Regions from separate parts of the Homo sapiens genome. Here region 1 is linked to region 2. The links come from fine-mapping of genetic effects on gene expression. A gene starts in region 2. The other region holds a variant in brackets. All regions are shown on one strand. Distances are between the middles of the regions.

Region 1 (2,913 bases), 140 kb after region 2:
GTGACAGTTGATCATGGATCAGAAATATTCCTTTTTCTCCTAGAGGAAATCCCTCATGGCATTATCATTCCCTAAGGACAATGAGATGTCCCTCCGCTCAAATCCTAAAGCCCCCTGATGAAAGATTTGGCTCTGATTTGCTGCCAACTTATTGGTAAGTGCTGAATGAGTTACTGTGCTTTGGCATAGCTTCTACATCACAGCAAGTGACTTCTCAGAGGGGAAAAGCCAAGCTCCAGACAAGGAGTGCTGTTAGCCCAAGGGGAAGAGCTAATAGATACATAGGCCGTAAGCACAGGGCTGTACACAGATCCTTTATTGGCATCTGCATGAGAGGCCTAGAAATCGGATGTTAGAAGCTAGGAATCATGGCTCTGAGCGCCTTGCATACAGGAGATACTCACTGATACTAAATCAAGGCATGTAAACAATACTGGGTAAATCATACCTACCAGAATAAAGAGTAACATTCAGAGCTTTTCTTTTATCTGTTATTTTAAATGTTACTCCATATTTCAAAAGTCTGCACGTATGAAATTGTGTCTTATTTCTGGTTTTTAGAGCCTAAGAAAGATACTCATTCTTAATTCCTATTTATCATCTGAAAACCAAATGAATTTTTGAAATAAATGTTTTACCAGCATTTCTGACCTGGTCTGGCCTGATCTCTGTGTTGGGCAAGAGAGGGTACAATTTGAGCAGTTCTCCTGAGTTAGACTCGGCTCAAAGTCTCTCTTTTAAAGTGAAAAGCCACCTTTCTCATTGCTTTTTTCATAGGTGGAAGAATCAGATTTCAAGAGACTGAAGTTCATTCTGTTTCATTAGGGATTAGACTAAAATGGACAAACAGTGGAAGAAATCCATTTTCCAGAAGCAGCTCTGCCTGTATGTCCCAGTCAACCACATGGATGGTCTTTGTGAAAGTTTTAACTTCCTGCAGAGTTACCGAGTGCTCAGCGATTGAGCTTTGACCACACCCGTGTTTGTTCCTAGTCTGTTCCCAGCCATAAGCATCTCCACAAGCCCTCTGTGGCTTGTGTGGCCTGATGTCCATGGCCACCAAGGGCCTCTCACCATACGCTTCTCCACTCAACCTTTGGAGAGACACGGACCACCAAAGGCTTGATTTTTCTTCATCCTACATTATATTCAAAACAAACAGGCTGGGTGCCGTAGCTCACACCTGTGATCCCAGCACCTTGGGAGGATGAGCTGGGAAGATCGTTTGAGGCTAGGAGTTTGAGACCAGCCCGTGCAAAAAACGAGACCTCGTGTCTAAAATAATTTTTAAAAAAGAGCAAAAAAAAAAAGCAATTTCAGATTAAAGGAGACTGAAGAGACATGACAATTGGACACAACATCTGATTCTGAATTGGATGTTTTTGTTATAAAAGACATTGTTGAGACAATTTGCACAACTTGAATGAGGTCTGAAGATTAGCTGGGAGTAAGATGCCACTGTTAATTTTCTGATTTCAGTGGTTGTACTGGGAAGAAGTAAGAGAGT[G/A]TCCTTGTTTGTACTGGAGACACTGAGGTATCTGGGGGTGAGGGGCATCATGTCTGTTTACTGTCAGATGGTTGAGGGGAAAATAATGTTCTTTGTACTTGCAGATTTTTTGGAAGTTTGAGATGTTTTAGAATTTGTAAAAATAATTATTTTTAAAACCCCACCATGCTATCTCCTGCATCCGTGTCTCATTGCTTCTTTTCCAAAAAGGCTATTTCCTCTTGTACGCAGTAAATGAAGACCTGGGTTCAAATCCCAGATCTGTCATTTGTTAGGTTTGTGACATAAGACTTCACTTCACCTCCCTGAGTCCCCCAGCTCCTCATTTTTTTTTTAATGGAGATAAAATGAGGTCATGCATATAGCATTTAGTATGTTGCCTGGCATATGGTGGATTCTCTATAAAATGGTACCTAAAGGAGGATAGCAAACTTGTTTTTCCTTTTTTCCTTTCATTTCTCTTCTCTTTAGTGTAGCAGAGGACCCTGTGGTATCTCAGTCCCTGCACTGTTTCACCAGGCTTGTAACTTGATTCTAGCAGTCAGCATTTTGGCTCTTACGCAGGGATAACACTTGCTCACCTGGCTCAGCTTTCTGGCCTCAGCCCATTCAGGCCTCCCTGCACACAGCCCAGGATGTTCTAACAGTCGATTTAGAAAAGATGCGGGAAGCAAAGCATTTCTTAGATGGCTTGAGACATCTTCATCCCTGGCCTTCTCTTGCAGAAGAGAAGAGGCAAGGATATATTTGGGCTGCTCCTTCCCTTAGGGGTGGGCCTTAAGGAGAGGTTGGAGGCTGGGACTGAGTGTGCTCTGTGAACAAATACATCTGTGGGACCTTGAATGAAGCTCTTCTGCAGGAGTGCTGAGGACAGCAAAGCTCATATGAGTGTTCTTCTAATCACTTTTTAAGAGGATTGAGATTCCTGCCTGTGCCCCATACAGACATGGGTAAGTGATCACATTGGCCCAGGTGAGGAGTGTCTGTGGGACATGGGTCTGGCCTCTCCCACCAGGCTGAAGGCATCTCTAGAGCAAGACCGGCGTCACTGAGTGTGATGCTGGGTGAGCATCCTCAGAGCACGAACGAGGGTCAAAGAAAGCTCTGGGTGGTTCTATGGTTCTATAAAGGGTTCTATAAAGACAAAGCTCTTGGAAGAGAGAAGAGGATGAGGTTGCCCCTAGTCCTAGAAGGGCAGGTAGAACTTGGATAGGTGGTTTGGAATAGATGAGAGCTAATCCAGATAAGGAGTATGCTGCTCACCCCAGCACCTTCACAGTGTCTCACTTAGGCCTCCCAATCCTGTGATGTTCTGACTATGCCCATTATACAGATTACCACTGAGGTGCCTTGCTAAGGACCTCACAGTTAATAGATGACAGAGCTGGGGTTCTCCTGTAGTTGCA
Region 2 (2,913 bases):
TCCCTGAGAGAGTGGGTTGTTTTCCACCTCCTGTTTGGTCTGTTTTCACATGTATCAGCTTCCCCTTTGACCTTCTACCATGTTGTGACACTGCACAAAAAACTCTAACCAGAACTGAGCAGATGCTCACACTATGCCCCTTGAGCTTTCCAATGTGCAGAACCATGAGCTAAGTAAACCTCTTTTTTAAATCCAAGCATACTTTGAAGATATTGGGGGTTCAGTTCCATACTACCACAATAAAGCAAACATCACAATAAGGCAGTTCACAGAATTTTTTTGGTTTCCCAGTGCATATAAAATTTATATTTACACTGTACTGTAGATTATTGTGTACAACAGTATTATGTCTAAAAAAAGTACATACTAAGAAAAGAAAAATAGCCCAGAGCTGTCTGAGCTATGTGAGGTATGCAAAATTTATTAGACCCGGACAGAAGTGAATACTGGCTTCCGCCACGCCTTCCCATGCCTTAGGGCAATTGTTAAAGGCATTTTGTTCTTTATTAGCTGCCTCACCCATTATCTTTATGTTCCTGGAATTTGTGATACAAGGAAGAAAGCATAGCCAGTCAATAGCTTAAGTTTTTTAAATATAAATTCTTGGTAAACAAGTTAAGCTCTGCCTCCTCTCCTTTCCTTAAAAACCGGCTCACGCCTGTAATCCCAGCACTTTGGGAGGCCGAGGCGGGTGGATCATGAGGTCAGGAGATCGAGACCATCCTGGCTAACAAGGTGAAACCCCGTCTCTACTAAAAATACAAAAAATTAGCCGGGCGCGGTGGCGGGCGCCTGTAGTCCCAGCTACTCGGGAGGCTGAGGCAGGAGAATGGCGTGAACCCGGGAAGCGGAGCTTTCAGTGAGCCGAGATTGCGCCACTGCGGTCCGCAGTCCGGCCTGGGCGACAGAGCAAGACTCCGTCTCAAAAAAAAAAAAAAAAAAAAAAAAAAACCTACTCCGACTGCTGCTAATTGGAGTGTATATTCAAGGCAACTTGAATCTAAGCTCCTGAGTGGCCATTCTCAAGCACTGAGCCCAAATAAACTCTATACTTAATATTATTCTCTGAATTTTCTTAAAGTTGGCAACACCTTAATTAAAAAAATACTTTATTGATCATGCTTATGAACATGATCAAATGAGAATCAACTTTCCTGTGTATGTGGGGAAGATATGCAACTAGTAACGCAGAAAGAGGGAAATGGGAAGAGGGAGAAAAGAGGGGCAGACATGGAACAAATGAGAGAGAAGGAAAGGGAAGCCAGAAGCCAGAAGCACATCAAGGATGACAGAAAATAAAAGGCGGATAAAATTCAAATGAAAAAGAAAGGAAAACCCCGACACCCTCCAAGAGGTCTCTCTGATCTGGACCACCGGCTCCAAGCCAGTAAGAAATCTCCCAGCCAGCTGTGCGCCGCGCGCCAGGCTGACATCGGCTTCCCGGATCAGCTCCGGCGCGGTACTGTGACGTCACCTGAGGGGGGCACTTCCGGTCTCGTGCCGCCTTCCCAGGACCCTCAGGGAGAGCGGGCAGCCTTCCAGGTGGACAGGTGAGGTACAGCTTGCCGAGCTCAGGGTGACTGCCCAAAGGAAGGACGGGTGGGCAGGCACGCGGGATCTGGCGCCCCTTCTTCTCTATGGTTCCTCGCAGAGCCCCTGTTGCCCTGGGCCAGATGGCCCGTAGCAGCAAAAATAATACTGTTCCGACAGCTCGCGAGTTCGGAGCCACTTGGCCTGGGAGTCCCTTGAGTTGCAGGCCGGGCAGTCGCTCACCCGAGCGCGGTAATGCAGCATTTGAACCCCTAAGTGTAGCCCACCTGTAGGGAGTCTTATGGTGCCCCCGCGGAGGAGTAGAGGCCAAAAAGTTGGGCAGCTGGCCGGGAAGAACTCGCTAGGAGGGGTCAAACTCTGGGCCGGGAGTGTTCTTTGCCCCCGGCGTTTAGTGCTCACGCCGCCTTTTATTCACGCTGAAGACCTTAACCGTAAACCCTCATCCTTGGGTCTTAGTTTGGTTTTGTTCCCCACGCAAGACAGAATGCAGATTGGAACACTTTATTCCTTGGTTAATTCGTATCTTCCCTCGCAAGTAGTTACCGGACACCTGCTTTGTGTCCTGTGTACCAAACACAAGAGTTGATAGTCCTGGCCGGGCGCCGTGGCTCACGCCTGTAATCCCAGCACTTTGGGACCCCGAGGCGGGCGGATCAGGAGGTCAGGAGATCGAGACCATCCTGGCTAACACGGTGAAACCCCATCTTTACTAAAAATACAAAAATAAATACATAAATAAATAAATTAGCCGGGCGTGGTGGCGGGCGCCTGTAGTCCCAGCTACTCGGGAGACTGAAGCAGGAGAATGGCGTGAACCCGGGAGGTGGAGCTTGCAGTGAGCCGAGATGGCGCCACTGCACTCTAGCCTGGGCGACAAAGTGAGACTCAGTCTCAAAAAAAAAAAAAGAGTTGATAGTCCTTGAGTTGAAAGAACAAATCTGTATGGAGAAAGAGATACAACCAAAAGAAACCCAGAAGATTTAGAAGCATCTCCAGAATGTTTATTCTCAAAAGCTGTTTTTTAATTAAACTTCTTTCTGAAACTATACGTAGGAGTGTCTCTTGTGTGTTTCCCCATTTTTCCACCTGAAGGTTAAAGACTTAGAAACCTGCTAAGGCCCCTCTTTCCAGCATGTAGCATTCTAGGGGGATAATCAGGGCAACACAGTGGGTGCCCATCTAAAATTTTATATTTTAATATTTTGCTTTTTGATAACTTAATGCCTTCAGACTGGAGGATTTTTTCTTTCTTTTTTTTAATTTTTTTAAAATTATACTTTAAGTTCTAGGGTACATATGCACAACGTGCAGGTTTGTTACATATGTATACATGTGCCATGTTGGTGTGCTGCACCCATTAAC

What was found.
Region 1: its variant is fine-mapped to the expression of LDAH in whole blood (INTERVAL, PIP 0.98).

What each region holds. Positions count from the first base shown.
Region 1 is chr2:20,682,788-20,685,700 of GRCh38, reverse strand. LDAH (lipid droplet associated hydrolase) reads left to right here. Exons shown (of 7, transcript NM_021925.4): 7 at 1-1,670. Among named protein-coding and RNA genes, the nearest start is that of GDF7, 17 kb to the right of the region's middle. The variant G/A (reference allele first, on the strand shown) is at 1,508.
Region 2 is chr2:20,821,674-20,824,586 of GRCh38, reverse strand. LDAH (lipid droplet associated hydrolase) reads left to right here and starts at 1,486. Exons shown (of 7, transcript NM_021925.4): 1 at 1,486-1,550. RefSeq lists enhancers at 1,303-1,692, 1,913-1,982, 1,785-2,610.